Homo sapiens: one gene and its partners. The protein of the gene in region 4 purifies or fractionates together with the protein of the main gene of each other region. This does not show direct contact. Each region holds a gene or a part of one and is shown on either strand. Other genes may lie near its edges.

Region 1 (3,500 bases), on a different chromosome or scaffold from region 4:
CCTGAGGACTCAGGAGGTAACTATACAGCTTGCTTAAAAGGAGGTGATCTCACACTTTCCCTCCTAGCTCTCAATAGGCTTCAAGTGTCAATGAATTCACCAACAGATATCATGAAAATAATTTTTATTTTAACAAGAAGGTATTTAGGCAAACAAGTTGATAATTACACACAGAAGCTGAAATTAAGTTGAGTGCTTAGTAAATAAGAAAGCAAGCTAAAACAAGACTGAAGAAATCCCATAGCGCCTAAGGCAATATTTATAATCAATAAGGAATAAATCCTACATAAACTACCTTGTCAACAATATATTTTTCACTAGCACTAATGCTTTGTAGCGGGTGATACTTCTTTAATACTCAATATTAAATAAGGGTCACTTCTTACCGGAACTGCTGCCATCAGTGTTGGTTTCAACATGGATGTATCCCCTTTGCTTCCTTTTTTAATTTTTGAAGACTACAAAATAAGAAAAAGTGATCCATATAAAGTGATCCTTATTTTTAAAATTCAATGGTATTCTTAGATCAAAAAGCCTATTATAAATTATTTTAATGTACTTACAGTCTAAGAAGCACTTAAAAGGCTAAAGCTCATTTTAAAATGAACCATCGCTCTCGCAATATACTGTCATACTGACTGAAAAAAATGCATTACAATTCACTATGATTTTTTAGTATTTCAAGTCACAGACACTGAACTTACCTGATCTGCTAAAGTCTGTGGTGAAGAGTAACCAATGCGGCATCCGTGAGAAAGACAGACAAGCTCAGCACTTAATTCTAGAACATGGGCCAGAGGCAAATATCCAATGTAGACATCTTCCTCTCTAAAAGAAAAGGGAGACGTCAGAAACAAAAGTCAGGTGTCGTCTATGCCAAAAGTGCCCTATAATGGGAGCAAGCTTGAAGGCACATGGAAGGGCCCCAGGGCATCAATTTGCTGGTCAAGTGTGTATGTGTTTGTGAGAGAGAGAGAGAGACAGGTGAAAACAGAGGATAGGCAGATGCTGGGGATGGGAGGGAAAAAGAATTACAGCTCAACCCAAAAGCAAGGAGGCGCACACTTGCAGGAAGGAATGCTGTTTCCCGTCCTACTTAAAAGCACTCAGGAATTATAAGCGTTGCTGAAGCAAAGTACTGAGGCACAAGAAACAGTGGCTTAAACAAATAATAATACAGGGTTCTTTTGAAGAACAGAAGAAATCATCCAAGGAGGAAATGGTCTTTACATCTAGTGGGTTGCCAACCAGAAGAGTTAAAGTAGAATCCACAACTATCTGCCAGAAATTTTACAGATAAGACTCTTGTTGTGGGAATTGGATTACATAATAAATTAGATCTTAATATACAGAAAATGTGTAAGTATTTGTATATACTTCAAGAGCTGCCCCCATAACCAAAATATAGAAGGTAACTGAGGCAAACCTGTAAGAAAATTGTTGCACTTAATTTTTTCTGAAATGTATGCATACGTAAGAGACATTCCTCCATCCCCAAGTTCAGTACCATAGCAATTACGTGAGTGTGTGTGTGCGTGTATGTTTGTAATTTCTGTGCATAAAAGCATCAAAAATATCCAACCACTGTACCCTATCGGTCATCAGAATACCAATTGCATCTCTGGCAATGTTTCCTTGACAGTCCCTCAAACTTCCATCTGGTTTCCTCCATCAGTCTCTTCCCCACTCCACTCTACCTTCCACTGCTACCACTGGAGTTTGTATTAACAAGAAAAATCAGAGACCAAATACTGAAGCTCAACAAATACTTAGTGGATAAATTAAGTTACCTGTTCACCTGAATTGTATTTAGATATAAAAAAAACTACAGCAGCAAATACAAGCTGATTAAAACAAAGGATTTACAACTATACAAATTTAAGTTCTGTACTTTTTAAAATATATCTATATGATATATTTTCAACCTCACAACTATAACTATTTTGCCATTAATTTTAATGTCCTTTTTTATTTTTTAAGGAAATGCCTACTACAAACAGACTCTGAGGGACTAATTTAGCCATATATTAATAAAATGACACAAATGCTAACATTATAACAGACATAAATACTTAACTACTCAATGTTACTTTACTATGACATACCCTAGTTCTGGAATCCTTTCTGCCATCCCAGTTATACCAGCAATAATGTTACTATGTGAGATCATGACTCCCTTTGGAAGTCCTGTGGATCCACTTGTGTACATGATTACTGCAATATCTGAGGGCAATGGTTTGCTATGAGGTTGGTTTTCTGCATTGAAGAGAAAAAACACACACATACACTTTCATGAGATTCAGCTGTATCAACAATTTCTTTTCATTATCATCAAATAAATAACTCAATCAAATTGAGTTAATTTAACTCAATTCAACAAATATTAGTTATACTGAGATCAACAAAACAGATCAAGTCCCTGCACGTATGGGAGATATATTCTATTGAGATATACAAACAGATTAACCTATGAAGAAAACTGAAGCAAGACAAGGTGAGAAGATGACAATAGATGCTATTTGGATGGAAAAGCCTGGAGACCGTCTCTGTAGAGTTTCGTTTAGCAAAGGCCTGAATAAAGTGAGGAAGGGAGCCATGGAAACCCTGGAACTGGGAGAAGAGTGTTCTAATTAGAAGGAAATAAGCAAATGCAAAGACCCAAAGGTAGGAATGTGCTCAGCATATCTAAAGACCAGCAAGGAGTGTGGCTGGAACAGAGTGAGCAAGAGGAAGAGTGGCAAGAAACAATAGTCAAGTGGCTATCAGGGACCACACATAGGACCTCAAAGGCCACGGGAAGAACTCTGGATTACGTTCTGGATGTAAAGCAATGTTGTTTTGAACAGGAGTATGTTATTATCTGTGAAAAAAAAGATCACTTTGGCTGCTGTGTGGCTAACTAACTTTACAAGGGGAAAAAAGGTATCAGGGAGACAAGATTATCCCAGTAATTCAACTAAGAAATAAAGGTAGCTTTGGACTAGAGTATCTAGGTGTTTGCTAAAAACTATTCACTGCTTCAGAATGGTGACTAACTTGGTTACACTCAGAGTCCTGCATTAAAACACGATGTGAACCATTTGAAATCAGAAGAGTACCAGCCTAAGGACAACAGCTGAGAAGCTATAGAGGTGGCACAGCAGAAGAACAAAGAGAAATAGGTCATGGTTGGCATTGCTGATATGTCTGAACCACTCCCAGAACTACTCTACATGTGAACTTCTAAATGAGTGTGAAAAAATTATTTAAATGTACTCCCAATAGAATACCCTTCCTCTCCTGTCAGTCAAGATACATTTCTTAAATAATGTTTACACTTGGAAGTCTTTACTTCCAAATCAGCCCTTCACTCCTTCAATGCACAGCACCCTTCTCCAACACCACCACTTCTTGGAAATTACAATCCTTGTGTCATCTGACCTCTGCATGCAGCCCCTGATCCTGCTGATGACTCACCAAGATCTCCTTTCCCTTGGCTTCCAGGAACCACATACTACTAG
Region 2 (4,030 bases), on a different chromosome or scaffold from region 4:
CGCTAAGCCCAGGTTCCAGTGATCCTGGCCGAGGTGCCAGATGTAGGAGTTAAGGAGCCTCCCGATGACCCCAGCCCAGCTGAGCAAGTGGGCAGGACCGCGGGGATAGGCAGCTCCCAAAGGCTCCCTCCCCGCGGCAGGACCCCTGCATCTCTGTGGGAAAAGACAATTGTTGGGGCCCTAAAAAAAACAGATTTATTGATTAAAACCTCATGCATGGCCGGGCGTGGTGGTTCACGGCTGTAATCCCAGCACTTTGGGAGGCTGAGGCACGCAGGTCACCTGGCCAACATGGGGAAACCCCATGTCTACTAAAACTACAAAATGTAGCTGGGCAGGCCGGGCCGGTGGCTTGACGCCTGTAATCCCAGCACTTTGGGAGGCCGAGCGGGTGGATCACGAGGTTAGGAGATTGAGACCATCCTGGCTCACAGGGTGAAACCCTGTCTCCACTAAAACATACAAAAATATTAGCCGGGCGTGGTGGCGGGCGCCTGTAGTCCCAGCTACTCGGGAGGCTGAGGCAGGAGAATGGCTTGAACCCGGGAGGCGGAGCTTGCAGTGAGCCGAGATCGCGCCACTGCACTGCAGCCTGGGAGACAGAGACTCCATCTCTTAAAAACACAAAAAACAAACAATAAAAAAACCTCACGTCAAATGACTTCAGCACGGACTGGGCTCAGGTGCGCACCTGCTCGTGTGCACGCGTGTGTACCCACGTGTATGCATGCATGGGCGCGCGTGGGCATTCCTGTGTCTCAAGTCCCTTTCCCAGGACATCCTGGAATCAGCAGCCCCACCCTGGGCCGGGTCAGCGCGTGCCATCGGAGCCCCCACGTCAGCCTCTCTCTCCGATCGGCACCTGGCGTCCCAGTGCGCAAGCCCCACGTCATCACGGGGGCCGCTGGGCCCGGCCTGGTCTGCAGTGTGGGAAGCCGGCCAGGCCTGTGACCAGCGCCCGGGCCGAGGGCCGGACCTGCGTCCGCTGCGGGGCAGGGATACCGGGTCCCTGCAGGGAGCTCAAGCCCCAGCGCGCCCGCGAAGAGCTGCGCGGACTCCCGGCTGCTTCCCCCGAATCCCGGGCGCAGGAAGCGCGAAGCCGGACGAACGCGGGGAGCGCGCGGCGAGCCCGCCTGAGGCCGCCCCTCCCGCCGCCCGGGGTCACGCGCCGCGCGCTCCCGCCCCGCCCCGCCCCGCAGCGCCTCAGCCGACAGGGGCTTCCGAGCGAGCAGAGTCCCGCGCCCCGCACTCCATGGAGCAGCTGCTGCGCGCCGAGCTGCGCACCGCGACCCTGCGGGCCTTCGGCGGCCCCGGCGCCGGCTGCATCAGCGAGGGCCGAGCCTACGACACGGACGCAGGCCCAGTGTTCGTCAAAGTCAACCGCAGGACGCAGGTGCTGGCCCGTGCGCAGGCGGGGGCTCTGCGGGTCTCTGCGGGGCCTGGGAAGGCGGAGGGGTCGGGGGCAGGCGCATTTCCTGGGGCTGGGCCTGGGGAGGGGTCAGCTTTGGCCCTTGGGAGGTGGCACCTGCTGGGTGAGCCCGGCTCAAGCGTTCTGTGAAGGTTTGTGTCTGCACGATCCGTGACCTTCCTTTGGCCTCCATGCGCAGCGCACAGGCTTCTAGGGGTGGTTTTAACTTTCCTATCCAGCAAGCGTCGGGGGATGTGAGGCTTGGGGTCCTTGGCTCAGCTCTGGGCCGCCCCTCTCAGCCCACCGTCCTCCTGGCAGTGGGAAAGAAGCAGAGACATGGCTGGGCCCCTGGCAGGGACCCCACGGGCCAGGCCAGCGTTCTCCTTCCCACAGGCCTTGTCTGTGTTTAGACCTGATTTCTATCTCCTGCTGAAAATAGTTCTGTTTAAGAATGTATGGAAGGCCGGGCGCGGTGGTTCACACCTGTAATCCCATCACTTTGGGAGGCCGAGGTGAGTGGATCCCTGAGGTCAGGAGTTCGAGACCATCCTGGCCAACATGGTGAAACCCCGTCTCTACCAAAAAATGCAATAATTAGCCGGATGTGGTGCCACTGGCCTGTAATCCCAGCTACTCGGGAGGCTGAGGCAGGAGAATTGCTTGAACCCAGGAGATGGAGGTTGCAGTGAGCCAAGATCGCGCCATTGCACTCCAGCCTGGGCAACAAGAGGGAAACTCCGTCTCAAAAAAAAAAAAGTATGGAAAATGTTAACGGAGGAAGTGGAGAAGGTTAGCTTCAGCCTTGAGAGCCGGCAGGTGGAGAAAGGCAGGCCTGGGTGCCCTCCCGGCCCGAGTGGGCTCAGAAGGCCCTGCACACTCTGGTGGGGGAGCTCTCTGAGGGGCAGCAGGGGTCCTGGTGGGGAGTGCTGGCAGGAGGAACACCAGAGCCATGCAGCCTGGGCGTGCGATCGGATCCTCCGGCATCACCTGCTCTGCCGGCTCAGAACCAAATCCCTCAAAGTGGGGAGTCCTACTCACAGGGAAGCAGTTTTTGGTTCAGGCTTCCCACGGGCTCTGGGAAACTTCCTCAGCTGGTCCTGAAAGCTCTGCAGGGTGAGACCCCTCCTTCCCTCCCACCCCCACGAGGGGCCGGCACATAGTAGCTGCTCAGTCCATGCATAAGAGCAGGTGATGCTGGGGCCCCTGGGGCTTAGCAGCCCCAAGGCCGGGAGTTCCTGGCCTGGTGCATGGGGGGCTCGCCCTGGAGCAGGGCTGGGGTGTGCCGGCCGCCCTCCCACCTGTGGACACTCACACCCACCCTCGGTGCAGGCTGGCCAGGGCTGCCAGGCTGGGGAGGCTGTGCCTGGGCTTTCCCTGGGGTACTTTGAAGGAAAGGGCGTTCTGTTCGTGTGCACCAGCAGATGCTTTGGTCTCATTCATGAGGTTTGATTTTTTTAAACATGCAGTCCTACACTTTGGGCGACTGAGGAAAGGTGGATCACTTGAGGCCAGGAGTTTGAGACCAGCCTGGCCATCATGGTGAAATTCCATCTCTTTTTTTTTGAGACGGACTCTTGCTCTGTCGCCCAGGCTGGATCTCGGCTCACTGCAAGCTGCGCCTCCCGGTTCACTCCATTCTCCTGCCTCAGCCTCCCGAGTAGCTGGGACTACAGGTGCCCGCCACCTTGCCTGGCTAATTTTTTGTATTTTTAGTAGAGACGAGGTTTCACCGTGTTAGCCAGGATGGTCTCAATCTCCTGACCTTGTGATCCGCCCACCCCGGCCTCCCAAAGTGCTGGGATTACAGGTGCGAGCCACCACGCACGGCGGTGGAACTCCATCTCTAGTAAAAATACAGAAAAACACAGCGGGGTGGGGTGGCCCACACCTGTAATCCCAGCTACTCAGGAGGCCGAAGCAGGAGAATCGTTTGAACCCAGGAGGCGGAGGCTGCCGTGAGCCGAGATCATGCCACTGCCCTCCAGCCTGGGTGACAGAGTGAGACCCTGTCTCAAAACAAACATGCAATTCTATAGGCCAAGGTATTCATGGACCACGTTCGTCAATGCATGTTTTCAACCAATGTGTACTGTACGTGAGGTGAGTGTTCACCTAACTGAAAACTGGAATGTTTGTGGGAATATTTCAGAAACAGGAAGGCCCAGGTCCCACGGGAGGCGTTGGGGGCCGGCCGGGTGTGCCGTGCCTTTTACCTTCCCAGCCCCTGCCCTGGACCTGAGGCCCCGCCTGATGGGCCCAGCCCTCTTCTTCCCTGCCTGACGTGTGTGCCCAAGTTAGCTCCAGTGAGGCCTCTGCTGTGGCTGCCCCACCCTAAGAGGCAGCAAGGAAGGTGGGTAGCCCGGGGGTCCAGCTCTGGACCTTGGTTCACTCACACCTCCCCACGCCCTCAGTGCTCCCGGGCACCCACACGTGGCCTGTGCATCCTCCTGTCACAGCAGCCTGCAGACCCCACACCCCTCACGGCCCAGGCTCAGCCTCAGCCTTGCAGCCTCTCGTCTCCGACGGGGGGCCCCTCTGCACCCTGCCCTCTGTGGTGGACGCCAGCTCCCAGCCAGAGCCAGCTATCAGTGAATGAAGGTCCTTGTGACTCCCACGTGGTAG
Region 3 (3,500 bases), on a different chromosome or scaffold from region 4:
GGGCCCCCCCATGTCACTCTGGGTGACAGTGAGACTCAGTCTCAAAAAAACAAAACAAAACAAACTTGCATGGGACATATTCAGCCTGCAGTGATTTTTCTAGATCAGCCCGTGTCCTAATGGTGACCAGGATTTTCTCTCCTAACACAGGCCCATGCTATCTGACTCCTGGTGGTCAGAGAAGGGCAGCAATGTCCCCACTTCACCCTCAAGGTCCTGGGACACTCACCCCCAGGTAGAGCTGAATGGTGTCACCCTTGATGGCAGGATACAGAAGGTCAAACTCCAGACGGTCAATGCTGAGGGAAATGGGCACTGCTCAAGGACAAGAAGAAAGTTCTGTGAGGGTGGAGGGCAGTATTGGAGGGGGAAGTTGGGGGGCTGCTTCCAGGTGGAGCTGTACTGTTGCATGGGGGGGCAGGTAGGGAGGAGCAGGTAATAATGATGTTGATAATAATGATGCAAACAGTGATGACAGTGACATTTATCGAGCATCCACTAAGTGCCAGGCCTCTGCATGTCAGCTGGTTCATCTGCATGATAACGTTAGGAAGTAGGTCTTATTATTACCCCCTTTTACAGATGGTGAAACCAAGTCTGAGGAAAGGGAAATGACCTGTTCAAAGCCATACTATGAGAGCATGGGAACCCAGTCGGTTTTATGCCAAAGTCCCGGTTTGGAACGGAACTGAACTATTGTATGTAACACTCCACCGCCCCTACCAGACTGAAAGCCGCGTCCCCCATGCAGGTGGTTCTGGGTCTGGACACCCTATGAGCACCTGGATCTCAAGGAAGCTTAGGCTGGAAGCCAGAGGCCTGGTAACATCTACTCTGAAATCCAAACTGGCTCCTCTGCTCCCCCCAAAGATCTCGTGTTCGCGTCAGAATTCCCCACTTGGCCGCCAGGTGGCGGTGGTGTGTCACCTGCCCCGGTGTATGGCCGAGGATGGGGAGTGCTGGAGGGCCAGGGACCGGCCGCCTACCGCTCCAGGGAGACCTCCGGGCCCGTCCTCGGGGCAGCGGAGGAGCCAGCTGGACTTCGGTTTGAGCCCCAGTGACCTTGGCTGGTCTCTTCTCGCGTCTGAATCTGTTTCCTCGTCTTAAAATGAGGGTATAGTGCCCGCCAGGGCAGCACATGTACTAAAATCGGAAGGACATAGAGACGATGAGCATGACTCCTGTAAAAATTACTTTAAAAAAAGAAAAAAGGTCCGTCTCCAAAAAAAAAAAAAAAGTATATTAAAGTCAATAAGGTCCCCGAAAATGGCTATAACAACAACAAAAAAATGTGATTTACAAAGAGAAATCTACAGACTTGTCAACAAAATGTAATGTGTGAACTCTGGATCCTACTCTGAATACTGACCAAATATCTGACGATTGGAAGAACTCTTTGGGAATTAAAAAAAAAAAAAAGAAAAAAGGAAAGAAACGGCGGTAGAATAGTAATTCCTGCTTCATGTATACAACTGGCACCTAGTAACGGCTCAATCCGAATGACACTCGCTCAGAACTCAAGTCTTCCTCTATCACCAACTGCCTCTGTGAACTTGGACAGTGACTTCATTGCTCGGAGCCTCTTTCATCACAGTGAAGGGGGGTCATGACTGCCACCTCATGGAGTTGTCTGAGGAGTCAGTGAGATGTGCCTATACAAAACACCCAGCGGGAGGGCGTGGCCCATGGCAGATGCCCTGTGGCGCTCAGTGCATGCTGCTCTCCCTTCTCCTCTCTGGTCGCCCTTGGAATGAGCCTCTTCTGATCCCAAAGTGCAGTTGGTAGACTTTTCTTCTTCTCCGCCAGTTTCCACTCTGGGGGCCTGAGCATGGCAGAGTTCTGATGTGGGGGCAGGAGCCTGTGCCCTCCCGTATCTGCTATGCTGGGGGAGGGAGAAATGACTTCCTTCCGTCTTTGCCCTTCGAATCATCTCTGATTTTTATTTTTTAAACCAGATATCTCAGTTTTTAACCCATGCTTTAATTTCTCAGATACCTCAAACCCTTTGGATGGAGGGAAAATTTGAAACTGCAACGAGATGGATAGAACTATTTGATGCTGCAGTTTTCTAAAGTATCCATAAAAACTAGTCCGGGGGCTGCGTGTGATGGCTCATGCTTGTAATCTTAGCATCTTCTGTCTGTCCATCCATCCATCCATCCATCTATCCATCCATCCATTTAGCATGCATTTGTAAGTGCTTCTCTGTGCCAAGAGGGACACCTGCTATGTGCCCAGAACTTTCCTGTAGACTTTTATTCCTCACTAACAATCCTATGTTGTAGGGATGGTTAAGCCCCATTTTATGGATGAGGAAACCGAGGATGAGGAGGTAAATTAGCTTTCCCAAAGTCATGGAGCAAGTCAGGGGCAGAGCTGGGATTTGAACTTGGGGCATCCACTGACCTGACAACTGCACAAATAGTAAGAGCTCATGAAGTCCTAGTCGTGGCGAATTTCTGTCTGCGCGTCTGGGGCAGGGATCAACTGATGCTTGTCTCACCTGCTTCTGGGCCTGAGTTGCAGCTCAGGCCTGACTTGGGGAGGCCTTCCCTTGGTGGAGTCAGGGTCTGGAGGCCAGCTCCGTAGTAAAGGAAAAAGTGGGAGAGAGAGCAGAGCACCTACCCTTCACCAGCTGCAGGAGGTCTGCATACATGCCATTGAAGGAAGCCTCGATCACGGGACACAGCTGCAACAGCATAAGCAAGGGGCTCCATCAGGGAGGGGCCAGAATGCAGCCCCACAGCAGCCCCGGGCTGTGCCCAGCCCACCTGGCCTGTGTCCTACTGCTGTGCCCATGGCCAGCCAGGTTCCATCCATGGGTTGAGGATTCATTCGTGTGTTGAACCCAGCCTGCAGGGCCACCTGGGACCTTTTGCAGTGGTTTGTCCCTTTCCCTGTGCCCAGGGTGTGCTTGGCCTGCCAGCAGCCCTCCCTCTCTGACTCCTTGTCTTGCTCACAGGTGTCTATGTTTTCCATGAGAGTGAAATGGAGGCTGGGCGCAATGGCTCATGCCTGTAATCCCAGCACTTTGGGAAGCCAAGGTGGGTGGATCGCTTGAGGCCAGGAGTTTGAGACCAGCCTGGCCAGCATGGTGAAACCTCATCTCTACTAAAGATACAAAAAGCCAGGCATGGTGGTGCACTCCTGTAATCCAAGCTACTTGGTTGGCTGAAGCACAAGGATTGCTTGAACCTGGGAGGTGGAGGTTGCAGTGAGCTGGAATCGTGCTACTGCACTCCAGCCTGGGTGACAGAGCAAGACTCTACTTTAAAAGAAAAAACAAGAGTTAAATGGAGAATTTGTTTATTCATACAGCAAGTTGCTACTGAGTTCTTTTCACATGTCAGACTCTGGAACAGAGGCCAGCAAGGCAGACCCAACCAGACTCCTGGGCAATCTCTTTGTGCCCTTTGTGGCTTTCTAGCCCAACACATCCCTTTGCTCACTGGGCACTTCTCTTCCTAAAATTGCCAGCAGTCCTCAACAGGGGGAGATTT
Region 4 (3,500 bases):
TATTGCCCAGGCTGGAATGCAGTGACACAATCAGCGCTCACTGTAGCCTCAAGCCATCCTCCCACCTCAGCCCCTCAAGTAGCTGGGACTACAGGCACATGCCACCATGATAGGGTTTTACCATGTTGCCCAGGCTGGTCTCAAACTCCTGGACTCAACTGATCCGCCTGCCTTGGCGTCCCACAGTACTGGGATTACAGGCGTGAGCAACTGTGCCTGGCCTGACCTGACCTGTTGTGAAAATAACTATCTTTGCGATCACTGGGAAGGAGGGTAGCTAAGCAGGAGGGAATTTGCCCCAGCAGCTCTCTGCTTCCACTCCTCAGGAAGAGCAAGCTGAGGCATGAAGTCTTATACCTAACAGTAAGGAGGCCCCTGAAATCTGGCAGCACGCTGCAGCTGTTGAAAGTCCTCAGCCTTGGCTGTAATCCCAGCACTTTGGGAGGCCGAGGCAGGTCAGGAGTTCGAGACTAGCTTGGCCAACATGGCAAAACCCTGTCTCTACTGAAAATATAAAAATTCACTGGACATGGTGGCATATGCCTGTAATCCCAGCTACTTGGGAGGCTGAAGGCAGGAGAATCACTTGATCCCGGGAGGCAGAGGTCACAGTGAGCCAGACTGCACCACTGCACTCCAGCCTGGGCAACAGAGTGAGACTGTGTCTAAAAAAAAAAAAAAAAGAAAAGAAAAAAAAGGCCCCAGCCTTGAGGCCTAGACATGACGCATCTTAGGAGGAAGCTATTGCCCTGGAAGAACCCACTGTCTGCTGGGTTGAAGCCAGGGTTCCCCACTGGAAACCTCTAGGGCTTTAGCTACACCTTCAGTCACTGTGGTTTCCAGGTAAACAGCTGAAAGGGTGCTGGCTTTTCCAGAAAGATCTGTGTTCTGATTCTATTCCCCATTCCTCTCTTGGCCTCTGTAGGCTCTGATCACAGATGAAAGCCCCTCTTCTTTCCTTACCCTGAAATTACAAGTCAAGAAGGGAAACAAGTGCGCACAACTCAGGCTTATCAAAGCATGACTCCACATGAGGCTGTGTGACATCCCCAAGGGCCTTTAATAGAAGAGGCCCATGGACTCTGGACTCAAAGTTCAGGTACTCACATAGTGTTCCCCCAATGGGTCCCTGGAGGGCCCTCTCTAGGGGTCACAGACTTACATGAGAAGAGCCCTCACATTCCCATACACCTAAATACTAAGACCATCCATGCCTACTAATCTTGCTCCAAATCTGCCCTCAAGAAACCAATCCCTGGACAGTCCCTCCCTGGAAATCTGTCAGAGGCAGCTGAAGTGAACCCAATCCCAACGGCTCAATGACTTGTACCCAGGGCTTGTGGGAGCAGAGGGATGTCTGAGGATAAATGACAGTCCTGAGGTAAGTATGGGGGGAGATAGACAGGACTCTAGGGAAAGCAGATCGGTGGGAGTGAAATGTGAGAGATGGAAGCAGTAGGCTCTGGGGCAAAGAAAAGTCAAATCACTCCTGCAGCAGCACTAAGAACATGGAGCTGAGACTGGATTCCTGTACTACCATCAACAATCCTGAAGTCTCTCCTGGCAACTGGGGAAGAAGCATGGCCTGAGATCTTTTTACTTTCTAATTTCACACAGGCCAAAGGCCATGCATGCTTGCCTTAGCTTCTCCTTATAGCATACGAGGGAGAAACAGACCAAGAGTTTACACTCACAGGGAACATCCAAAGATCCATACATGAGCATTCTCACTGCCCTGCCCCACCCCCCTGACATGGCTGCCCATTTCTGAGAGGTGAAAGGGACAGAGACCACCACCTACTGAGAGATGAGAAAAGAGGAGAGGTTATGTGACCCATTTAAGGACACACACCAGGCAAGGGAGGTACTACAGTGCCATTCCTTCTTGAGAGATGAGCTAACAGGCTCAGAAAAGGCAAGGCTGACACTTGAAGATACAGCTGGTGAATAGAGCAGCTAGGATTTGGCCTTAAGTTTTTCTGATAACAAAGCCCAAGTGCTGAACCCACATGCTGCACGGCTTCACAGGAATCAACTCTGACCACATCCCACAGTCTTGCAGGCCTTCAGATCATACGGAATCCAGCCCTCCTCTGAGAACCTCCCAGAACTAAAGGCTTGGCTAGCAGCTTAGAGTGCTGCCTGGGGCCTAAATTGTAGGTTCTAGGGTGGGTGATCTGGGGCTGGAGTTGCCTGTTTCAGTGGCTAACCCCAGGTAAGTGAGGAGTGCTATCAAGCAGGGATATCTGTGCTTCCTTCAGAGATGGCTCTTGGGCAAATGGGGCTGGAGTAGGAAGTCTTTACAGAAAGGTGCAATTTTTTTTTTTTTTTTTTGAGAGAGTTTCGCTCTTGTTGCCCAGGCTGGAGTGCAATGGCATGATCTCGACTCACGGCAACCTCCGCTTCCCAGGTTCAAACGATTCTCCTGCCTCAGCCTCCCGAGTAGCTGGGATTACTAATAGGCATTCACCACCTCGCCCAGCTAATTTTGTATTTTTAGTAGAGACGGGGTTTCTCCATGTTGGTCAGGTTGGTCTCGAACTCCCAACCTTAGGTGATCCGCCCGCCTCGGCCTCCCTAAGTGCTGGGACTACAGGCGTGAGCCACCATGCCCGGCCTGCAATTTTTTTTTTTTTAAGCCTTCGAACATCTAAGATCTTGTTTCTAGCCTAGGGGCTGGCTGCAGAGGAGGCTGTGCCAGGCACAGTGACCTCAGAAGCTCTTTGATGACTTCACAGCTGCAGAGCCAGGACCTGTGCCATCCTGGAATTTCAAGGTCTGACTGGCTCCTGACTGCCCTCAGCTAGGATCCAGGGCCCCCTTTCCCTTCCCAACTCCCCAAGGCACCCTGCCTCCCACCTGCCAACAGGGGTGGGGGGATGAGCTGGATTGCGGTGCTGGTGGTAAGGCCCCAGCATGTGCCATTCATCCAGCCCATGGTATGGAAGGCTTGCTGAGAGGCCCTCAGGCACCACAGCTGAGGAGCAGGGCTTGCTCCCCTGGCCACCAGAGGCTTTCTCCTGCCTGACATCCATGAAGCGGCAGAACAGGCCAGGGGCAGGTGGTTTCCCCAGAGGCAGCTGCTCCAGTCAGGTGGACACACTGTTAAGGGCTGGAAACTCAGGGTTTTGTAGGTGTGGGATCTAGAATCCCCATCCAATTCTTATTCCTGCCCAGAGGCAAAAACAGAAGACAAGGCGGGTAGAGACAGCAAGTAACCCTAGGTTCTGCTCAGGAGCAAAGCTTCGGGCTAACCCAGCACCACTCTGGCTCTGGCCTCCACCATACACCTACCTTCACTATCCCACTGTTCTGCCTTCAAACGATTCTCATGTCAGGCAAAGGCTTATACAGAAATAGAATCTTCTATAGTTACAGTCCAGCAGCTTTCCCTTTGGGTGCACCTGAGACACCAGTGGATGGGTTTTAGAGGCTGCAGAGTGAACACACAAACCAGTGCACTTCCTGACCAGCCACAGGCCTCCTTCATACCTCGGGTC
Region 5 (3,500 bases), on a different chromosome or scaffold from region 4:
AAGTCAGGACAAGTTTGGTACATTTAAGGAACAGAAAGAAGGCCAGCATGGATAGAGGTAGAAAGTGATGTTGGAGAAATAAGCTGAGTCACATCAGGTGGGGCTAGGTTGGCTAAGCTAAGAAGCCTGATGTCATTGTGAGTGTACTGAAAGCCATTGGAGGGTTTTGAGTAGGGGCATGACCTGGTCTGATTTCCTTACAAAAGGTGGCTCTGGCTAGCTGGGGGGTTGGGGGTGCAGGGTACCCAGTTAAGAGGTTCTAACAGTGGTTCCTGTGAGAGATCATGGCAACCTGGATAGAATAACTGGAGTAGAGGTGACCAGAGGAGAGAGAGAGACTTTGGAGATGGGGTTGATAGGACTCACTAATGGAATTGATGTGGGGTTGGAGACAAACTCCTGGGTTTTTGGTCTGGGTAACAGGTGAATGATTGATGGTGCTGCTTAATGAATGAGGATAACTTGGCAGAGAGCAGTTCTGGACAGAACAGAAGGTATGGACAGTCAGGCAGCTGAGTATGACGGAGGACCAAGAGTGTGTGCGCCAGAAAGTGGTTATAACGGGCTGAGCGTGGTGGCTCACACCTGTAACATCCCAGCACTTTGGGGGGCTGAGGCGGGAGGATTGCTTGAGCCCAGGAGTTGGAGACCAACCTATGCAACATGGCAAAAGTCCATCTCTACAAAAAATGCAAAAAGTAGCCAGGTGTGGTGGCACGTGCCTGTAGTTCTAGCTACTCAGGAAGGACATGGGAGGATCACTTGAGCCTGGAAGGTCAAGGCTGCAGTGAGTCTTGATCATGCCACTGCACTCAGCCTGGACGACAAGCAAGACTCTATCTCAAAATAAATACATAAATAAATTTAAAAAGAAACAAACGCCTGGGTGCGGTGGCTCACACCTGTAATCCCAGCACTTTGAGAGGTCAGGGCGGGCAGATCACCTGAGGTCTGGAGTTCGAAACCAGCCTGGCCAACATGGTGAAACCCTGTCTCTACTAAAAATACAAAAATTAGCTGGGTGTGGTGACACACACCTGTAATCCCAGCTACTTGGGAGGCTGAAGCAGGAGAATCGCTTGAACCTGGGAGGTGGAAGTTGCAGTGAGCCGAGATCGCACCACTGCACTCCAGCCTGGGCAACCGAGTGAGACTCTGCCTCAAAAAATAAATAAATAAAAAAAAATAAAAATAAACACAAGACAAAATGGACTTTAAGGCAAACATAGTACTAAAGATAAAGTCACTTAGAGAATGTGCAGTTCACCAGCAACATATAATGATTCTAATCTTAAATGTTTCTAAATAATATAGCCTGAGAATATTCATAGAGCAAAAATTTGTTTTAAAGTTATTATAATGATAGGCTGGGGTTCTGGGATGAAGACGGAGGTGAGGTCACAGAAGGGGATGATGGACAGTGAAAGGTAGTCCCACTAGTGTGTTGGTGGCCTCAACTGAGCTGTTGCTGGAATAGGTATCCTAGAATTAGGGAGTGAGAAGGATAGGGCATGGTGGGGAGAGTGTGGATCCTTGAAATGGAGATTTAGGAGGTGGTACAGTTTTTGATAATGATGAGATCTGGGCTATGACCATGGGAGTGGGTGGCTGACATGTGGTAACAGGAGAAAATCACTGGGATGGAGTGAATGGCTCAGGTACATGGACCAAGATGCCACAAGCGTTGTTTGTGTTGCAGAACAAGATTGTGGACCAGTGTGAGAGGCTGCAGTTACAGAGTGCTGCCATCACCAAGTATGTGGCGGACGTCCTGCCGGGGAAGAATCAAAGAGCAGTGGTAATTCCTCTTCTTTCCTCTCTACTCAGCCCCCTCCCAGGATAAGGCCTTAGACTTAGGGACTTGGGCAAGTCTAGGGTCCCTTACCAACCTCACAGACTCATTGTGCTACTAGCAAAGCTTCTCATCCCTCAGAGACTCAATTTTACCATCTGGGCAGGGTGGGCTTGTTCCTGTACCATACTTGGTGCAAAGACTCTGCTAGCAAATGACTTTCTTGGGTATCTTGGCATAGGGGATCAAGAAGGGTCGTATTCTTCTACCATCTGGTCATTTTCTGCCCAGCTGCAGAATTATAAAATAACCTAGGACTTTTACATTGAATATTCTCTGTGACAATCTTATGAAGTAGATAGCAGTAACATCCCCATTTACAAATAGGAAAATGGGTCCTTATAGAGGTTAAAGAGGTTAACTGACCTGTCCAAGGACCCCATAGCCTCCTGGCAGTCGGTTCTGTGACCTGGATCTTCTGTCTCCTAGGCTAGTGCTCCTTCTGCTGCATCCCACTGCTGATTCTTTTTTTTAATTTTTTTTCTTTTTGAGATGGGGCCTCACTCTGTTGCCCAGGCTGGAGTGCAGTGGTGTGATCTTGGCCCACAGTAACCCCTGGTTCAAGCAATTCTCCTGCCTCAGCCTCCCAAAGTGCTGGGATTACAGATGCCTGCCACCATGAGTGGCTAACTTTGTAAATTTTTAGTAGAGACGGGGTTTTACCATATTGACCAGGCTGGTCTCGAACTCCTGGGCTTAAGCCAACCTCCCTCCTTGGCCTTCCAAAGTACTAGGATTACAGGTGTGAGCCGCCATGCCTGGCCTCCACTGCAGATTTTTTTATTCAGTGGACTCATTACCACTGCTGTGTCATCACTTTCAAGTATGCCTATCAGGGGCAGAGCCTATGAATTTCTTTCTGCATATCCCCTCCCTCCTTTCCCTATAGTACACGGAACAGACTTGGTACCACATTAGTCAGAGTTCTTTTAATTGCATGGAACAGAACCCAGTTGAACAAGTATAAGCAAAATGGGGCATTTCCTGACAGGACACTAGGGGTCCTCTTAGGACCTAAAAGGGGCTAGACCAGGAACCAGAAAGCTGCTAGGAGTCCAGGCAGCTACTTGGTGCCCATCTATGCTTTGCTTTTGCATGATGGTCTCCATCTCCCTCCCCTGCCCTCTTCCCCTCTTCTTCTTTATCCTTTTTATTTTCTTGTCTTACTGCACTGGTTATGACCTTAGTACTGTGTTAAATAGAAGCTAGTGTGGCAAATCCTGGCTTTTTTTTTTTTTTGAGACAGAGTTTCACTCTTGTTGCTCAGACTGGAGTGCAATGGCGCGATCTCGGCTCACTGAAACCTCCGTCTCCTGGGTTCGAGCGATTCTCCTGCTTCAGCCTCCCGTGTAGCTGGGATTACAAGCGCCCACCACGACACCCAGCTAATTTTTTGTATTTTTAGTAGAGATGGAGTTTCACCATGTTGGCCAGGCTGTTCTTGAACTCCTGACCTTAGGTGATCTGCCCACCTCGGCCTCCCAAAGTGCTGGGATTACAGGCGTGAGCCACTGTGCCTGGCCCGACAAATCCTGACTTTAAGAGGAAAGCTACCAATATTTCACCAGTTATTTATTTAACAAATCTTTATTGAGCACCTACCATGTGCCAGATACTGTTGTTCAATGGGTTAGGCATTCTCCAGTGA
Region 6 (3,906 bases), on a different chromosome or scaffold from region 4:
CGGTTCCCCCAGCTCAATGAGTGGTGTCCCTTTGCGGAGCTGGTGGCTGGCCAGCCGGCCTTCGAGGTGTGTCGTTCCATGCTGGCCTCCCTGCAGCTGGTGAGTAGCCTGGGATACGTGGGAGGGGGAGACGGTCCCCAGACCCTGCTGATGTGCCACCCCTGCAGGCCAATGACTACACAGTGGAGATAACCCAGCAGCCCGGGCTGGAGATGGCCGTGGACACCATGTCCCTGAGACTGCTCACGCACCAGCGAGCGCACAAGCGCTTCCAGACCTACGCTGCCCCCTCCATGGCCCAGCCCTGAGTGGGGAGCACCGAGGCAGGGGTGGGGGAATGTGTACTGAGGAGCCGTGTGTCTGCTCCTGGCTGGCCCGGCCTAATAAAGCAGTGTTGCCATCTCATCTTCCCCCTAAAAACCCTTTTATGTACACCTGCGCAGAGAAGAGGGCTGCCTGGCCTCCCTGGGCCGCTGGTACAGATCACACACACACACAGATTAAACGCAGCCCGTTTAATGATGGGGCCCAGACTGCAGTGGCTCAAGACAGGACACTGCGGAAAGCCGCCATGTGCCGCCGCACACTGTCTGAGATCTGCTCAGCCGATCTGCTCCGGCCGTAGTAATCCGTGAAGAGGCCGTCAGGGTTGAGCAGGTAGATGGCAATGGAGTGGTCCACGATGTAGTCCTGGTCCTCATCCTTGGGGCCTGCATTGTAGTACACGCGGTAACTGTGACTAGCCTGGGCAACCTGTTTGGTGGAGCCGGTCAGACCCAACAGTCTTGGGTGGAAGTCCTGGACGTAGCGGGCCATGGCTTCAACGTCGTCCCGCTCGGGGTCCACAGTGATGAAGACAGGCTGCACTGGAGGCAAACCAGGCTCTGCTTCCAGCTGCCGCACCACCTGCACCAGCTTCTCCAGCTCGTCTGGGCAGATGTCAGGGCAGTGAGTGAAGCCAAAGTACATCAGCACCCACTGGCCCCGGAAGTCAGCCTTGCAGCGAGCCCGGCCTCTGTGATCCAGCAGGTGGAAGTCGCCCTGGCCCACAGCTGCCTGGCGCAGGGCTTCTGTTCGCTTTTGCTGCTGCAGCCTCTCCTTCTCAGCCCTCAGGGCCAGCCAGGCCCCACCGAGTCCAGCCCCGAACAGGCCTGTGATCAGCAGCCGGGTTCGAAGCCCAGGGCCCTGGGGCTGGCCCTGCCCACCTGTCTCTGCAGGGCCCTGCCTTGACAAAAGCCAGGACCTCAGATGCAGGGCCTGGCCTCCCAGGGTCCCAGGGAGGACCCGAGGCTTGAGCTGAGAGAGCCTGTGCCAAGCTGTGGGGCTCCGAGTCAGCAGCAGCATGGATCTGATGCTCCTGGAAACAAGCACAGGCGTCAGGAGCCAGAAGGGAAGGCCCAGGACAGTGCCTGGGCTGCCCCTGCGACTTGAGACCAGCCACCCATCTGAAGGACCCAGCCCACGTTCAGGCTTAACAGGCATTTGCAGCTGCTCACCTGAGCTCAGAACTCCACCTCCACCAAACATCCACACCTGGGCAACCACACCTGTCACTCCTGTCCTCTACCTGGGATCACCAGCCTGTCACCGCACCCTGCCCTGCACCTGCACCTCAGCAAGGTGAACCTCTTGCTGACGGAAAGCATTCCAAGTGCATGCCTTGCCTGAACTAACCACGTTATCTATTTGCAATAAACCCATTTCTTAAAAGGAGGTGGGTAACTCTCTGGCTTGCAATCCCCGAGAGCAACCGATTCCTCCAACACTTTCCTGTTACCTCCAGCCACTTCAACCAACCGCGGCCTTCCTCCACACTCCCAGCAGAAAACCTGCACGACCTACCCCCGGAGCTCAGACTCTGCCCGCCGGCTGTGTTTAACCTCTCCTGGCAGAGACGCACGACACTTCCACCCGCCACAAAACCCCACCCTCCTCACATCCAGGCTTCCCAGCAGCTCCTCCGGGCTCACAGCCGACGCCCTGCCTTTGCGTTGGTGACCTTTGAGCCTTTCCCACGGGCCCCCGCAGAAGGTTTGCTAGGTGGAGGTCTCAGGACTCCCGGTCACTGCCCCCTCCTGCTGAGGGCACCCTCCCGAGGACTCACTGCACCCCCGCCCGGGCGGTTCTGGGTTTGTGCCCTCCCCAGCAAGGCCAGCGCCCTCGTGGCCAGAAAGGTTCCAGGACCACTCGAAGCGCCGCGCGAGCGCGTTATAACTGTGCTTGGCCGCGAGAACACCGGTGCCTGCTGGGAGCCTCCCACGGGCGCCCCAGCCTCGCTCCGGCCTCCAGCGCGCCCTGGGGTGTGCCCCGCCAGCCCCGCGCAGTAGCCGGAGCTGGGAAACTACCCCGGAGTCCAGCGAGTCCTCAGGGCTACCTCCTCCCCTCCCAGCCCCGGCGTCCGCACCTCGCGGCGGGGCCGCGCGTCAGTGGACCAAGCACGAGAGGAAGCGCCGACCTCCAGCTCCCTGCGCTCTGCCCCGCCGGCTCAGGGAAAGCGGGCGCCACACGCTCACAGGCAGGGCGCAGGCGTCCCCGGAGCTGCGCATGCGCACACGGGCGCAGCCGCTGACAGGCTCTCAGCGCGTGCGCGGAAGGCGGAGCCCGCCGGGGGTCACGTGTTCATCGAGACGGCCCCCGCCTCCGCAGCCCTGGATCCTTCCGCTCCCGCCCAAGCACTGACAAGGTTTCGCGGCAAAGGAGCTTTATTGCTGCGGCGGCAGAACGAGCTCTGCGAAGGGCGAGGGGGCGGCGAATGGCGCGCGGTCGGAGAGTACGAGCGCCTCCTGCAGGGCGCGGCTCTGCGGGCCGCTGAGCGCGGGGCCGTCCCGGTGCACGCGGAGCCAGGGGGTCCCTGCAGAGCGAGGGGCTGTTAGAGGCCGCGCGGCCGGAGCTGGGCGGGGGTGCGGGGCCAGCAGGGCGGGGGCGGCGCTCACCACGGCGCAGCCTCTGACCCACGTCGACCAGCAGCTCTGCGCCCACCCCCAGGCGGAGCGGCTCCCCAGCGCGGCTGCGCCCGGCCCCGAGCTCGTGCAGCACCAGCGCCAGCGGCAGCGCCCGGACCAGCTCCACGGTGCCTGCGGGGAGAGGGGCTGAGAGGCGCGGGCTCGGGAAGGGGCGGGGCCTCGGGAAGGGAAGGGGATGGCGGAGGCGGAAGGACGGGGACTCCCCCGACGCTCACCATCTGCGGGCGCCAGCAGCTCCTCCTGCTCCCGGGCGCGAGGCAGCAGCTGCCGGCGTTCTGCGGGACTTCCCGAGCACAGGGCTCGGGCCAGACCGGGATCCACGCCCTGCGCCGCCAGCATCCGCTCGAAGCGGCCAAGGGCCGAGCCGTCGTCCAGCGCCGCGGCCACCCGGGCAGCGCCCTGGGCCTGAGTCCCCGCGTGTCCGCTGAGCCAGAGCAGGGCGCCCCCTGCGGGCGGGGACGGGTCTTAGGCGCGGCCGGGTCGGGGCGGCCCCAGCGGGAAGCACCCCCCGCCGCCTCCGCTCCCCTACACCCCGTCCCCCTCACCGAGCGTGGTGACCAGGTCCCTTAAGTCTGGCGGGCCTGCGCCGTCCATGCAGAGCAGCGCCTCCTCCACCTCCAGGGCGTGGCCCACGCAGCGACCCAGGGGCTTGTCCATGGCGGTCAGCGCTGCCGCGACCCGAAGCCCTAGGCTGGCTCCCACGCCAACCTGCGGAGAGGAGGCTCAGCGTGGACCCCCCATGGCGGGGCCTTCTGCAGCCGGTTCTTGGTCGAACTCCAGCCCCTGCTGCACCCTGGGTTGCCAGCCCCCCAGCATGAAGTCAGGGAAGGATTGGGGTGGGGAAGAGACACGAGTGAAGTGCGACACCTCGCCATGGGGCCAGGAGGAACTTGTACTTGGTCTGGGGCAGGAACGCCACAGAGGGCTTCCCCAGGTCCAGGCC
Region 7 (3,500 bases), on a different chromosome or scaffold from region 4:
AAGACGCCATAAAAGCATTAAACACCAGTTTTAAAATATGTTCTCAAAGATGAATGGCTATGACTAAAATTTTCATGGAAATTTTCAAATGGCTACAATCTGCATGAATCTAATTCCTCAAATCAACCCTCTATTGAGAGCTAAAGCTACGTTCCTCTACAAGCTTTTTCCTAGAAATTTAAACATGGCTGCTGATAATGACAAGGAAAGAAAAGAAAACCCAACTTAGCAAAGTCTTTAAGGAACATATTTCCTTACCTTTCTTTGAAGACCTGAAGTCCTCGAACCAATCCTTCCAGACACAGGAGATCATATCTATTGGCAGGGACGTCAATTTTGTAAAGAACAACATCAGAGGCTCCTGCTGCCTTTACATTACCTTGTTCTTTACTTATTATTTCCTTCTCAGATGTCTAAAACAAGCCAAAAAGTAATGATAAAAATTAAATAATTTAAACTCTCTTTAAAAAGTAAAAGTTGTCAGCCCTATAAGGCAGTAACTACATTATACATATTTTCTATAACAAGAACATGGGATTATTATATCCACGACAAAAACAACATGAAAATATTAAGTGTTATAATCATAGCAGACAGAAAAATACTTCAGCTTTAACTGAGTTCAGATATCTGGCAACCTCAATCACCCCAGAAAAGCACAAATCCATCTAAACAAGGGTCAGCAAGCAATAGCCCCCTGGCCAAATCATACCTGATACTTGTTTTTGTAAATAAAGATTTATTGGAACACAGACAGACCCATTCATTTACATATTATCTACTGCTACTTACACACTGCAATAGCTGAGTTGTAACAGAGACTATAGAGCCAAAAAGCCTAAATATTTACTATCTGGCCCTTTACAGAAAAAGTTTTCCCATCTCAAGCTAAAAGAAAATTAAAACATCACCAAGAACATAAAGTAACAACAACAAAAGTGTCAAAGGGGTAAAAGAAAGATGATTCACTAAATAAAAGAAACACAACTTCTTATAGGATGACTCTAAAACCTAAATCCTGTGGGCACCCAAGTCCACATGAGAATGAGAGGGGTAGTATAAAAACTAAAAACAGTCAGAGACCATCAGACACTGGTAAAAATTAGAAGGGATAATAGGTACAATGGGAAGCAAACTAGTGATAGCAAAGGGATAGTGCAGCAGAATGAAGGCAGCCAAGAGGGAGATGACAGAAGAAACACCACTAGAATCACGTTTAATGCAGTGGCAAAGAGTTTAGAATATCTCAAGCACCACACTACAGCAGAGTAACAGATTTTCTTAAACATAACCACTGCAGAGAAGTTACACTCTATTCCTTATGTTTACTACAGCAGGGAACTGTAAATATATTTAAGAAATTTTCACTTGAAATGATTACAAGTTGTATTCCAACTGTTAATGTTACGCTTTAATTATGTGGAAACTCCACTTAACCAGAATTCCTACTATTTCCACCACCAACAACCTGCTAAAATAACTGATGGATTTCTATCAAAATATGTAATGATTTTTGTTTTACATGATGCCCTCCCACTGCCACAATATAAGTAGTTCAAATTTTTGTCCAAATTAAGAATTATATCCACATTTGCACAATATGCAGAGAAATTCACTTCTGGCCACGAGTATTATGTGCCAAAGTCCCACCTGAGGAACCACAGGAGTCTATGCAATGCTGGGGCTGTACAAGGTGGTGCTGGGCTCCAAAAAACCTCTACCTTGGGCATCTCAAACTTAGGAGGCAAATTTTTATAATTAGGGAAAATGAAAAATGAAAAACAAGAGAATGAAGAGGAGGAGGAAGGAGTAAAAAGGGGGAAAAGAAAAGAAGGGGAATGGGGAGAGGCAAAAAGAGAAGAGGAAGAATTCGAGTTTAAACAATGTTCAATCAAAGGGGTTAATAAAATTACTGTTTCAATAGTGAAGAAAGCTGAGTCACCTCCCAGGAGATGGCAGATCTCAGGAGGGACCTATATACAGAGAAGATAATATAATAACCGGAGAAATGAAGGCATCTGCATTCATTTTTCAGCAGCACCCCCTTATCCACAGGGGATATGTTTCAAGCTCCCCAGTGGATGCCTGAAACATTGGATAGGACTAAATGTTACATATACCATGTTTCTTCCTATACATACATACCTATGAAAAAGTTTAATTTATAAATTAGGCACAGTAAGAGATTAACAACTAATAATAAAATAGAACAATTAAAATAATATACTATAATAAGAGTAATGTGAATGTAGTCTCTTTCTGTCTCAGAATTTCTTATTGTACTATACTCACCTATTTTCAAACCACAGTTTGCTGCAGGTAACCAAAACTGTGGAGGCAAAAAACTGTGGATAAGGAGGAACTACTGTAAAAAAAGATCTAATTCCTTTGCAAAAAAAAAAAAAGACACAGAAGCTTACATCTTCTTTCAGTTTCAGCATCTCAGCTCATACAATGACCATATGTAAAGACTGAATTTGTCAGTGCTACCTGACAATAATCTTACAGAAATTTAAAATCACATAAATTTCAGAGTCAAAAAAGAAAACCATAAAGATCATATAATCCAAACCCCTTATTTCACAAATGAAAAGGAGGCCCAGAGAGACTCGTCTGGACTATAGAGTTCAGACAGGCAAAGTAATTGTCCATAGTTACACAGCTAGTAAATGTTAGAACTAGAACTCAAATAATCTAACATCCAGTCCAACACTCTTAGATATCACATAATTTCAAACATAATTCTGAGGTGTAGTAAAATTACGAATAGCAACTTATAAACTACAGAAATCTCAGCCAATTTCTCAAGTATACAAATAGATTAGTACAAAGATGATCTTTCTGTAACATTAGTAAGGCAGCAGGAAAAATAAGGTAAGATAATGTACAATTTTTTAGCCTGAACATTTTTTAACTTTACACCTAAGGTAGTGTTATAAAAGCACTGAATAGGTGAAGATAGAAGGCTTAGGAAAAAAATAATACTAACTATCAGAAAATTATCTTTTAAATTAAAGTATGTCTTTTTTTTTTTTTGAGAAAAAAATTGGGCTTTTATTGGCAATTACAAAAGTAATAGATTTTCTTACATAATACGTTCCTTCAGTAATATATTTTTCAAGTATTTTACCATAGAATTTCTAAAGTACTTTGTCATTGACCCCATAATTTATTATAAAGTAGGTCCCATAATCACATTTTTTGGAAGTTGCTGAAATTGAGATAAAAAATATTGTTTTTTTATGAGAAAAACTGGACAAAATACAGAATGGCCAAAACTAGATTAACTGGCTCAGTTATGTCTACTAGGTGAAAGAAAATACAGAATCTGTTACTGTAGAAATTTTAAGAGGTTTTGAGTCAGTTCCAGTATAAAAATAAGGCCAAAGTTCTCCTGTAAAATCATCATTAAAAGTACAGAGAAGAGATCTATCATTCAAATTATAAAAGGAAACCTCATTCATTTCACAGTCTAAAAAAATGCCAATCTTACTAGGTGT

Evidence for each region.
Region 1: the proteins of MTMR14 (region 4) and ACSL3 purify together in Homo sapiens (affinity purification with mass spectrometry; one large-scale study listed by BioGRID and IntAct). This does not show direct contact.
Region 2: the proteins of MTMR14 (region 4) and FN3K purify together in Homo sapiens (affinity purification with mass spectrometry, with the first as the bait; one large-scale study listed by BioGRID). This does not show direct contact.
Region 3: the proteins of MTMR14 (region 4) and BPIFB1 purify together in Homo sapiens (affinity purification with mass spectrometry, with the first as the bait; one large-scale study listed by BioGRID). This does not show direct contact.
Region 5: the proteins of MTMR14 (region 4) and BSPRY purify together in Homo sapiens (affinity purification with mass spectrometry, with the first as the bait; one large-scale study listed by BioGRID). This does not show direct contact.
Region 6: the proteins of MTMR14 (region 4) and SCO2 purify together in Homo sapiens (affinity purification with mass spectrometry, with the first as the bait; 2 studies listed by BioGRID). This does not show direct contact.
Region 7: the proteins of MTMR14 (region 4) and FARSB purify together in Homo sapiens (affinity purification with mass spectrometry, with the first as the bait; one large-scale study listed by BioGRID). This does not show direct contact.

What each region holds. Positions count from the first base shown.
Region 1 is NC_000002.12:222,920,036-222,923,535, reverse strand, and holds part of ACSL3 (fatty acid CoA ligase Acsl3), read right to left. Parts: intron 2,257-3,500; coding exon 2,106-2,256; intron 829-2,105; coding exon 705-828; intron 459-704; coding exon 387-458; intron 1-386. UniProt on the Homo sapiens protein: Acyl-CoA synthetases (ACSL) activates long-chain fatty acids for both synthesis of cellular lipids, and degradation via beta-oxidation.
Region 2 is NC_000017.11:82,734,385-82,738,414, forward strand, and holds the start of FN3K (fructosamine-3-kinase), read left to right. Parts: upstream 1-1,230; 5' UTR 1,231-1,252; coding exon 1,253-1,393; intron 1,394-4,030. UniProt on the Homo sapiens protein: Fructosamine-3-kinase involved in protein deglycation by mediating phosphorylation of fructoselysine residues on glycated proteins, to generate fructoselysine-3 phosphate.
Region 3 is NC_000020.11:33,296,714-33,300,213, reverse strand, and holds part of BPIFB1 (BPI fold-containing family B member 1 precursor), read right to left. Parts: intron 2,690-3,500; coding exon 2,626-2,689; intron 2,098-2,625; exon of another isoform or gene 1,370-2,097; intron 1,144-1,369; exon of another isoform or gene 361-1,143; intron 316-360; coding exon 230-315; intron 1-229. UniProt on the Homo sapiens protein: May play a role in innate immunity in mouth, nose and lungs. Binds bacterial lipopolysaccharide (LPS) and modulates the cellular responses to LPS.
Region 4 is NC_000003.12:9,698,005-9,701,504, reverse strand, and holds part of MTMR14 (phosphatidylinositol-3,5-bisphosphate 3-phosphatase MTMR14), read right to left. Parts: exon of another isoform or gene 3,295-3,500; intron 3,170-3,294; exon of another isoform or gene 1,013-3,169; intron 1-1,012. UniProt on the Homo sapiens protein: Lipid phosphatase that specifically dephosphorylates the D-3 position of phosphatidylinositol 3-phosphate and phosphatidylinositol 3,5-bisphosphate, generating phosphatidylinositol and phosphatidylinositol 5-phosphate.
Region 5 is NC_000009.12:113,352,541-113,356,040, forward strand, and holds part of BSPRY (B box and SPRY domain-containing protein), read left to right. Parts: intron 1-1,699; coding exon 1,700-1,798; intron 1,799-3,500. UniProt on the Homo sapiens protein: May regulate epithelial calcium transport by inhibiting TRPV5 activity.
Region 6 is NC_000022.11:50,523,068-50,526,973, forward strand, and holds SCO2 (protein SCO2 homolog, mitochondrial precursor), read right to left. Parts: upstream 2,532-3,906; 5' UTR 2,405-2,531; exon of another isoform or gene 2,375-2,404; intron 1,714-2,374; exon of another isoform or gene 1,358-1,713; 5' UTR 1,345-1,357; coding exon 544-1,344; 3' UTR 501-543; downstream 1-500. Other genes in the region: NCAPH2 (condensin-2 complex subunit H2), read left to right, coding at 1-99, 168-308; TYMP (thymidine phosphorylase), read right to left, coding at 2,703-2,851, 2,934-3,089, 3,179-3,409, 3,509-3,671. UniProt on the Homo sapiens protein: Copper metallochaperone essential for the synthesis and maturation of cytochrome c oxidase subunit II (MT-CO2/COX2) by facilitating the incorporation of copper into the Cu(A) site of MT-CO2/COX2.
Region 7 is NC_000002.12:222,642,593-222,646,092, forward strand, and holds part of FARSB (phenylalanine--tRNA ligase beta subunit), read right to left. Parts: exon of another isoform or gene 3,030-3,500; intron 2,330-3,029; exon of another isoform or gene 2,293-2,329; intron 414-2,292; coding exon 259-413; intron 1-258.